Linked DNA regions of Homo sapiens: region 2 is linked to region 1. Evidence: fine-mapped expression QTL. A gene starts in region 1. The other region holds a variant in brackets. All regions are shown on one strand. Distances are from middle to middle.

Region 1 (5,383 bases):
GAATACTATGCTACTTGCAAATTAACCTATTTTAAGAGATTGAACAAGTAAAGATATTTGCACTACAGAATGAACGAACTGTATTTAAGAGATTTGTATTCCAGCTCCAGATTAAATTCAAACCATGCTTACATGGGTTTTGACTATAAGGAGGTTTTATACCTTTTTTAAGAGTGCACTTGAGGCCGGGCGCGGTGGCTCACGCCTGTAATCCCAGCACTTTGCGAGGCCGAGGCGGGCGGATCATGAGGTCAGGAGTTCAAGACCAGCCTGGCCAACATGGTGAAACCCTGTCTCTACTAAAAATACAAAAAAATTAGCTGGGCATGGTGGCGTGTGCCTGTAATCCCAGCTACTCAGGAGGCTAAGACAGGAGAATTGCTTCAACCGGGACCTGGGAGGCGGAGGTTGCAGTGAGCCGAGATGGTGCCACTGCACTCCAGCCTAGGCTACAGAGCGAGACTCCATCTCAAAAAAAAAAAAAAAAAAAAAGAGTGCACTTAATTAAAGACCACAAAGACAGAAATAATGCGCAGGTGCAACAGGAGAAAACATTTGTAACATGTTCTTGCCAATATTGACTTTGTTGGACTTCATCTAATTTAGACCAGAAGAATGATTTATCTATGAGAACACCAAAACTATTATTGAAAATTTTAGAAAGCCCTTGCCCAAATTGACAAATTAAATTAGAAGATAACTTTTCAGATCATGCTTAACTTGAAACTTATCAGAAGCATTACTTTTTTTTTTTTTTTTTGTAACTAGTCAAAGTAACATACCTCCCTGAAATGTGTGACAAATATAATCCCCAAAAGAAATCTCTTTCCATGGTCCGGACCTTCTGATACGTTCTGAAACTTCACAATTCTTCTCATTTTCCCCAGTTAATTGAAGCATTCTGATGCTTCGTCCTTGGAGGTCTTATTTCTTTAGATAAGACTGCTGTTGTCTAGTGTCTTCTGAGTTGTCTAGTGTATTGGAATCACATAAGACTATTTTGAAAGAGAATCCTGGATGCAAATTGAAATGGATACTAGATAAAGAATGATGTAATCCTGGAACCCCTGCAAACACTAAAAATACACGGGGAAATTCTGAACTCTGTTTATGAATAAATACTCCTCTATTAAGTGACAATCCCAGGAGTGACAGGGATATCTGACTCATTTACTTTTGTAGCATCTCACCACAATTAAAGTAAATCATTTCTTGAAAGAAATGGACACTATTCTCTACAAAGCATGAGAATTTAAAATGTTTTGCCCAAATCTTGGCATTTCATGTTAGAATAAACTTTGTTTGGAGTGCTTTGCATGCTACCATATAAAATGGGTTTAGTGAAGAGCTTTTCCTGACAGTGACAAGTGGTTAATCAATTCCAGTTGCAAATGACAGCAAAAAAAATACACATAGCTTGCCACGTTTGCTGCTTTAATTATAATTTATTAGTCATTCTATTTCCTGAGAGAATTTAGTCTGGTTAGAATGCCCTTCATTGTTAAAGTTTGCTTTAAAATATTAAAGAAAATAATTATATACAAGTAATTACTTTGGCTAGTAGAAATGAAGTTTCTCAAAATACTCTTAGTAAGCCACTACCTATTTACTTCTTAAATAACAACTGCTACAAGATCTACGAACTTGCAAAAAATAAAGCTGAAAATCCTCCACAAATTGATGCAGCCAACAGCATTTGCTACTTTAAGTGACAATTTTTCAAACTACCCACTTAAAATCAAAGTATAAATATAATCTGCCTTCCAGAAATACTAGTCATATGAATTATCTAGGAGGGATTTTCTTTAAATATTAGGAACAAATTCATGTACTTTTACCTGAAATTCCACCATAGATCTCTTCTGCTATCCTAGCCGCTTCTTTTCTATTTCCTTTGACGATATAGAAATGGGTTAGGAGAGCCAAAAAAACTTTAATTAAAAGCTTAAAGAAAAAAAACGTAGCAAACATTGTAATAAAAATGTTTTTAAAGCCATAGAAAACAGGACCATCTTCCATTTTGGCTTATGCTCTGTATAGGGTCCTAGGACTGTAAAATTTCACTGAGTTATAATTGGTATCATATGACATCTATTTTAAACCTTCTAGCACTCAGTGCTCCTGTTACCGAGATCTCTGTAGGTTCTAATCTAACTGATTTGGCGACTGCATGTGCTGACTCCACAGCAGTGTTAAATAAACTAAAGAAACTTCCTTCTAACCAGAAACATCCAATAGTTCTAGAACTACATAACTCAGTACTATCTAACAGATAAGATTCATATCCAAACATTTTATATTCCTAAACCCCTATTTTTCCTATTTTATGTTAGAAAGCAGGGTTGGAAAGATAGAAACTTCTTGGCTTCCACAGAAACAAAGCAAGTTATTTGACATACAAAAGAAGTGCAAATATGCTGTATGTTCTAAGTGGGAAATACTACTCCCTGGAGCATTTCATTTTCTCTTAATTCTGAAGTTTATAGAGGATTAAATCCAAATCTAAAATATGACCAGTTAAAAAAGACCATTTACCTGGCCGGGCGCGGTGGTTGACTCCTGTAATCCCAGCACTTTGGGAGGCTGAAGCAGGCGGATCACCTGAGGTCAGGAGTTTGCGACCAGCCTGGCCAACATGGCGAAACCCCCGTCTCTACTAAAAGTACAAAAATTAGCTGGGCGTGGTGGCAGGTGCCTGTAATCCCAGCTACTCAGGAGGCTGAGGCAGGAGAATTGCTTGAACCTGGGAGGCGGAGGTTGCAGTGAGCCGAGATCGCGCCACTGCACTCCAGCCTGGGTGACAAGAGCAAGATTCTGTCTCAAAAAAAAAAAAAAAAAAGACAATTTACCCTAAAGCTGTATGTATGTATGTATGCATGTATGCACGTATGTATGTATTTAGTTTTAAGATGGAGTCTTACTCTGTTGCCCAGGCTGGAGTGCAATGGTGCGATCGCGGCTCACTGCAACCTCTGCCTCCTGGGTTCAAGCGATTCTCCTGCCTCAGCCTCCCAAGAAGCTGGGATTACAGGCATGCGTCACCACGCCTGGATAATTTTCGTATTTTTAGTAGAGACGAGGTTTCGCCATGTTGGCCAGGCTGGTCTCGAACCCCTGACCTCAGGTGATCCACCCACTTTGGCCTCCCAAAGTGCTAGGATTACAGGTGTGAGCCACTGCACCCGGCCAAGCCTGTATTTAATAAAAGGCCTATCTTGGATGCCTCTCCAAGTAAGTGTCACACTAGAAGCATCAGACTACTCGCCATGGTAGTTCCATCTGGGACAAGGTCCCATGGCAAGGTTCCCTCCTGATCATTCACTTGCATTTCAAGCATTGGTAAAGGTGGTGCCCATTTCTGAAAAATGTGGGCTATCCTTGATCATGGAAGAGTCATAGTGAAATGGACAAAAGAGATGCCCTAGGTTCTGGATGAAGTACCCAAATATTTCATGAATCAACCTTCTCTAGTTGGGCAATTTTCTCTTATCAGCTGGCCAACACAAGTGAAATGGGTTTATTTTTAGTTTTCCTCATCACTCTAGGTCTCTGCCTTCATTCTTGGCTATGTTCGATTTTGTAAATTTTAAAAATCAATTGAAAAGACAAGCCAAAATATAGTTATACAAGTGGCCTAATAAATCTTAACAAATGATTTATGCAAAAATATGGGAATTTCTCCTAGCATGCAGGCAAATTAGAATGACTGCCTGGTTAAGAACTGTTTCACTACATTAAAAAGCTGACATGTAAGAATACAATCTTGAGTCACAACATACAGCTCATCGATTTCAGTGTATCAGAGCACTATAAAGACCTTGAGTCGTCTTAACTCTCAAGGAACAGACATTAACATAAGATTTACTTTACTGAGCTTATATTACCTGGTAGAATGCCAGTGTATGAAAATACATGAATACAACTCTTTTAGTCCTTTTCATTTATCTTTCTTCAATTATACTCTAAGTAGGCAATCATTTAGTCATGTCAGACCAGTGATGTACATTGTTCTATAACATTATTCAATCTTGTTTTGGTCTTTTCATTTAAAACATGGCTGTCCTATGTTTTACACGCCAAAAAAGTTGGCCATGAAAAGCTCAACTTTATTAAGGTTCAAATGGGTGTCTATACTATTTCTGAGAGGCCATCTTTTTTTTTTTTTTTTTTTTTTGAGACGGAGTCTCACTCTGACTCCTAGGCTGGAGTGCAGTGGCGCAATCTCGGCTCACTGCAAGCTCCGCCTCCCGGGTTCACGCCATTCTCCTGCCTCAGCCTCCCAAGTAGCTGGGACTACAGGTGCTCGCCACCACGCCCAGCTAATTTTTTGTATTTTTAGTAGACACGGGGTTTCACCGTGTTAGCCGGGATGGTCTCGATATCCTGACCTCGTGATCCGCCCACCTCGGCCTCCCAAAGTGCTGGGATTACAGGCGTGAGCCACCATGCCCGGCAAGACCATCTTTACTATATTTGAACATTACATTTGTGATGGGCATAAAAGGCTACTGATACATAAGGACAGTTGATTCATGCTATCTTTCACAGATGAAATCATCAACAGCACCAAGGTTTCTCAGCCTCAGCACTATTGACATTTTGGGACAGATACATGTGTTGTGGGGGATGGCCCAGAGCATCGCGGAATGCTTAGCAGCAACCCTGACCTCTACTCACTTGATGCCAATGCCCCACCCCACCTAGTAGTAACAACCAGACATTGCCAGATGTCCCCTGGGAAACAAAACTGTCCCCCCAAGCCCTAGTTGAGAACCACTGAGCCATACCCAAATAGAAATGATAAAGGATAAAAATCAGTTCCCCCAAGTACTAAAGGCTACAAATCAAATTCTACATAGAACTTTTTCATAATTTTATATTAAAAAATCCAGCCACAGGATGATACAATTCAACATCTAGCCACATCCATTTGGGAATGCAGAGATGGATAAAGAGGCTTTAAAATTACTTCACAAAAGTAAACACAGACCTATACTACCCTGACTTTGCCAAAAATAAGTTTTGGCATAAGATAAATCAAAACATAAACATAGGTGACTGCTTTCCACTGCTTCCCACAAAAGGAGTGGGAGAAACTAAATCAGGGATGTCCAATCTTTTGGCTTCCCTGGGCCACGCTGGAAGATTTGTCTTGGGCCACACATAAAATACACTAACAGCAGATCATGAGATCAGGAGTTCGAGATCAGCCCGGCCAAAATGGTGAAACCCCATCTCTACTAAAAAATACTAAAGTTAGCCAGTGTGGTGGTGGGCGCCCGTAATCCCAGCTACTCAGGAGGTTGAGGCGGGAGAATCATTTGAACCCGGGAGGCGGAGGTTGCAGTGAGCCAAGATCGTGCCACTGCACTCCAGCCTGGGC
Region 2 (5,366 bases), 33 kb before region 1:
AGGTATCATCTTACCCCAGTTAGAATGGCTATCCAAAAAATAGAAAATAACAAATGCTGGTGCAGATGTGGAGAAAAGGGAATTCTTATACACTATTGGTGGGAATGTAAATTACCACAACCACTATGGAAAACAGTATGGAAGTTTTCAAAAAATTAAAAATACAACATCAAAAGCTATTAATATTTCAAAACAAAAAAATAAAAAATAAAACAAAAAAAGAAGAGGCAGGTGGACCAGTTGAGGTCAGGAGTTTGAGACCAGCCTGGCCAACATGGTAAAACCCCATCTCTACTAAAAATACCGAAAATTAGCCGGGCATAGTGGCAGATGCCTGCAATCCCAGCTACTCCAGAGGCTGAGGCAGGAGAATCGCTTGAACCTGGGAGGCAGAGGTTGCAGTGAGCCGAGATCGTGCCATTGCACTCAAGCCTGGGTGACAAAAGCAAAACTTCGTCTCAAAAAAGAAAAGAAAAGAAAAAAGTTCATGTATTTCATATTCTTTTTTTTACTCAGTCATTAAAATGTAATATGTATTTTACACGTGCAACACATCTTAATTCAGCCTAGCCACAATTCCTGTGCTCATTAGCCATATGTGGCTAGTAGCTACCGTATTGAATAGCACAGGCTTAGAGGTTGCAATGAGCCAAGGTCATACCATTGCACTCGAGCCTGGATGACAAAAGTGAAACTCCGTCTAAAAAAGAAAACAAAACAAAGTTCATAATGTTTCATATTCTTTTTTTACTCAATCACTAAAATGTAATATGTATTTTACACTTACAACACATCTTAATTCAGCCTATCCACAATTCCTGTGCTCATTAGCCATATGTAGCTAGCAGCTACTGTATTGAATAGCACAGGCTTAGAGAAGGGTTTCTCACTCTTGGCACTATTGACATTTTGTACCTGATAATTCTTTTTTTTGTTTGTTTTTCTTTCTTTCTTTCTTTCTTTTTTTTTTTTTTGTTTTGAGACGGAGTCTCGCTCTGTCACCCAGGCTGGAGTGCAGTGGCGTGATCTTGGCTTACTGCAATCTCCGCCTCCCGGGTTCAAGTGATTCTCCTGCCTCAGCCTCCCAAGTAGCTGGGACTATAGGCACCTGCCACCACGCCTGGCTAACTTTTGTATTTTTAGTAGAGACAGGGTTTCACCATAGTGGCCAGGCGGTTCTCGAACTCCTGACAGTGCGATCTGCCTGCCTCGGCCTCCCAAAATGCTGGGATTACAGGCGTGAGCCACCATGCCCGGCCAGATCTGATAATTCTTTGTTGCTGGCTCCTGTGCACTGTAGGGTGATTAGCTGCATCCCTGATCTCCACCGTCTAGATGATAGTAGCAATTCTCCCCCAGTTGTTGCAACTAAACATGTCTGCAGACATTGACAAATGTCTCAGTGGGAGTGGGGCAAAATTGTCTCCAGTTGAGAGCCAAAGGTCTAGAAAAATTGGGGGAAAAAAAAACATGTGTGAAATGAGTCTTAGGATGATCTGAGAGGGAATTTTCATTTTAGAACTGAATACTGAACCATGACAGTAATACTTACAATAATTAAAAGTCTATCCAGTTCCCATGTTCTAAATTCACAAAAAAGAGAAAGAATAGAGGAAGAGGAGGGGTGACAGAAGGAGAGAGAAATGAGAAGAAGGAGAAGACAGAAAAGGAGAAGCCTCTTTTTATATACCTTTGTGCTTATTTTGGGCCCCTATCCACAGAAAAAAATATTGACCCAGCATTGAGCCCACTTTGGTGGCTGGCATCAGTATGTAATTATTTCAAAAACCCTGAGCATCTTGACTTTGAAAATAAGCCAGTGCTTGGGTTGCAACATGCCTCAGACAATGCCTGTGGGTTCAGGTTGTTGGGGACACCCAGTGTTCTCAATCCTAGAACTGCTTACTTCAAATAACAGCATTTAATATCAGAAGCAATAAGCAATAGATGCCAACCTCTGGGTGCACTGATCTCTTCCAAAGTCTCTCTTATCAACCAGGACCGCAGTAACTGGAAGCCTCAGTTAACTACAATGTTTCTGAAGTCCTTAACTTTATATATGTATATATATATAAAGTCTATATAAATATATATAACTTTATATATAAAGAACTTTGAAAACATATATATATAAGCTTTATACATATATTAAGGACTTTGAAAACATATATGAACTATATATATTAAGGACTTTGAAAACATTAAATATATGAGTGCATGTGTGTGTGTGTATATATATACGTATATATATATACGTATATGTATGTATATATATATACGTATATATATACAAAAAATCAAAATTATACCAGATTTATTCAAGGAAAGAAAGAAAAAAAGTGGGGAAGGGCTGAAGGAAGGAACTAAATCAAGAACATATCTTGGAATACCTAACATTTGTTATAATCTTATCCACCTGAATTTATATGTGTCTATACAATATTCAGAATGTTGACTTTTAGGTACAAGAAGATCCCGAATCATCAAAAAACAGCCTATTGTTTTCACTCTACTTCACAGTTCTTTTAAGTTTCTTAACAACAAGAGCTAAAAGCTAAATGGTTTCTACTTGCCCCTTGGTTAATGAGAACATTAAACTAACCAGGAGTTTCCACTCCTCAAGTGTTCTAGCTCATGGGGGATTTACTTCGACTGAGCTCATTTAAAGATACTA[G/A]GAGTCTAAGCTGTTGAGCTTCTACATTAGGTACTCTAGGTACAGCAGACAACAATCTGTGTCATTCCAAGTATCTTCCCAGGAACACTTAGGACTATTGGTATAGGAGGAATCGTTCGAGTGGCTCTGGCAGATGTAGCTTGTGGATGGCTTGATGACATGCTCGACCGAGACACTTCCGGACACACAGGCGGCAGAGCTGGGAAAGAGCAGGTGGGCCTGAGAGAGAAATAAAAATGGTGTTAACTTCATAGTGGTGGGAGGTGGGGTGGAAGGGGGAAATCAGAGAACTGGAAGAGGCGGAAATTTTCTAAAAGCAGAAGAGAAGCTGGATCTGTATAGGAACTATAGAATGAGGTAGCGGACACTAAATACAGACAGCAGATCCTGATTTGCCCCTCTGGAAGGGATGCATTTCTTTAAGTTAATCTTCCAATGGTACTTGGATTACCAATGTTGAAGAATGAAGCTAACCAGAGGCAAGTTAGGAATGAGGTGTGGGGTCTAAAGGGAATGCATCTCATTCATGTATTGAATGTGCCAATGAAAGTGATACACGGGGCCAGGCACGGTGGCTCACGCCTGTAATCCCAGCACTTTGGGAGGCCAAGGTGGGCGGATCACGAGGTCAGGAGATGGAGACCATCCTGGCTAACACGGTGAAACCCCGTGTCCACTAAAAATACAAAAAATTAGCCGGGTGTGGTGGCGGGTGCCTATAGTCCCAGCTACTCGGGAGGCTGAGGCAGGAGAATGGCGTGAACCCGGGAGGCGGAGCTTGCAGTGAGCCGAGATCGGGCCACTGCACTCCAGCCTGGGCGACAGAGCGAGACTCCGCCTCAAAAAAAAAAAAAAAAAAAGAAAGAAAGAAAGAAAGTAATACACTGGCCAAGGAGAAAATGCAAATGGAAGGACTGAACACGCAGGACTCCAAGACACAGCCACAGAACAGAGGGACAATACGGAAAGGGTGTCAGCGGGAAGTTCCACCTGCGTGGTGACAGAGGCAGTGTTAGGAGATGTGCCAGGGGCCAGATATTCAGCCCTCAAAGTACTCCTGGACCTACCGGCTCTAGCTGCCCATGAGGTGGTGCTGGCTGGGTCTCAACTTAAATCTGAAGAGGCCCTTTATTCTTGCAAGGATTCCAGCTCAATAGAGATCTGCAAGAAGGACTCAAGTCAGACCCTATTGTTCCCTGAAACTGAGTCTCATGGACTCTCAAGGAGTCTCACAGAATCATCATGCCCATGGCTTTGAATGGCTCTGAATCCTTAAGGAAAATCAGCTGATGAGAGTCCAGAATATGGTTGAATAGGATGAATGAGCTTTTGGCTGCAATACTAGTTGCACAGTCATTATTTCCTAACCTGACTGTTATCAGTAAAGATCTCTTCAAGAAAACCTAATTACTGGTCTACACAAAGTTTTCCTTTTCAAAAAAATCCACTGTAACAGCATCTCACACCCCATGAAAAATGATGGACTGCATATGCGAATAGCCAGGTTAACATTTGGCTTCACATTGCCAAGGAGCATCCATGAGATAGAAAGCTACCTGGAGGACCAAACAATCGATCTTAGTTAAAATCTTGGGAAGCAAGAATAGAAAACTTCTTTACCTGTTGTCCTACTTAACCTCCTCTGCAAAATGGTAATGTAGACAAATTGTCCAGTGCCCAGAGACACTGACAGGAGAGTGAACTCTGATGTAGTTGGTATTTAATCTTTCTTTTTTTTTTTTTTTTTTTTTGACAGAATCTCACTCGGTCGCCCAGGCTGAAATGCAGTGGTTCAATCTCAGCTCACTCCAACCTCTGCCTCCCGGGTTTAGGCAGTTCTCTGCCTCAGCCTCCCGGGTAGGTGGGATTACAGGCGGGTGCCACCAAACCCAGCTAATTTTTGTATTTTTAGTAGAGACGGGGTTTCACCATCTTAGCCAGGCTGGTCTTGAACTCCTGACCTCATGGTCTACCCGCCTGGGCCTCCCAAAGTGCTGGGATTACAGGTGTGAGCCACCGCGCCCAGCCAGTATTAATCTTTCTAGAGCAAGTGGCTATATTTATGAAGACAAAGGACAGAGGAGCTAGGCCCTGTCCAGGATATCCAGGTCTACAAATCCTAGTCCTAGAAACATTTTTGATGGAAGAAAATAGGAAATGTGAAAACTTCTATAAACTATAGTCTCTGCTAACAGTTGGAAAGTAGCTGGTATTTCCAAGCTCGGATCTGCTGAGGAAGATCATAATTCTTCTGGTGAAGATTCAAATAAAAGAACAATGATTAATGATCTAGACTATTGAAAATAATCCTGGCCAGGCGCGGTGGCTCACGCCTGAAATCCCTGCACTTTGGGAGGCTGAGGCGGGTGGATCACCTGAGGTCAGGAGTTCGAGACCAGCCTAGCCAACATGATGAAACCCCATCTCTACTAAAAATACAAAAAATTAGCTGGGCGTGGTGGCACGCGCCTGTAATCGCAGCTACTCAGGAGGCTGAAGCAGGAGAATTGCTTGAACCCGGGAGGCGGAGGTTGCAGTGAGCCGAGATCACGCCACTGCACTCCAGCCTGGGCAACAAGAGCAAAACTCCGTCTAAAATAATAATAATAATAATAACAATAATAATAATCTAGACCAGTGGTACGCAAAGTGTGGTCCTCAGACCAGCACCATCAACATCACGTGGGAGCCT

Alleles and levels. Positions count from the first base shown, and alleles are read on the strand shown. Sizes are in standard deviations (SD) of each study's normalised expression.
As copies of A replace G in region 2, the expression in left ventricle of the gene that starts at base 2,054 in region 1 goes up (small effect, 0.23 SD a copy in GTEx).

The links. PIP is the estimated chance that this variant, and not a neighbour inherited with it, causes the effect.
Region 2: its variant is the best candidate, but not a certain one, in a credible set for the expression of ASB11 in left ventricle (GTEx, PIP 0.89).

The regions. Positions count from the first base shown.
Region 1 is chrX:15,313,587-15,318,969 of GRCh38, forward strand. It overlaps ASB11 (ankyrin repeat and SOCS box containing 11), which reads right to left and starts at 2,054. Exons shown (of 7, transcript NM_080873.3): 1 at 1,839-2,054. The coding sequence starts at 2,019.
Region 2 is chrX:15,280,737-15,286,102 of GRCh38, forward strand. It overlaps ASB11 (ankyrin repeat and SOCS box containing 11), which reads right to left. Exons shown (of 7, transcript NM_080873.3): 7 at 961-2,893. The coding sequence ends at 2,769. Among named protein-coding and RNA genes, the nearest start is that of ASB9, 13 kb to the left of the region's middle. The variant G/A (reference allele first, on the strand shown) is at 2,675.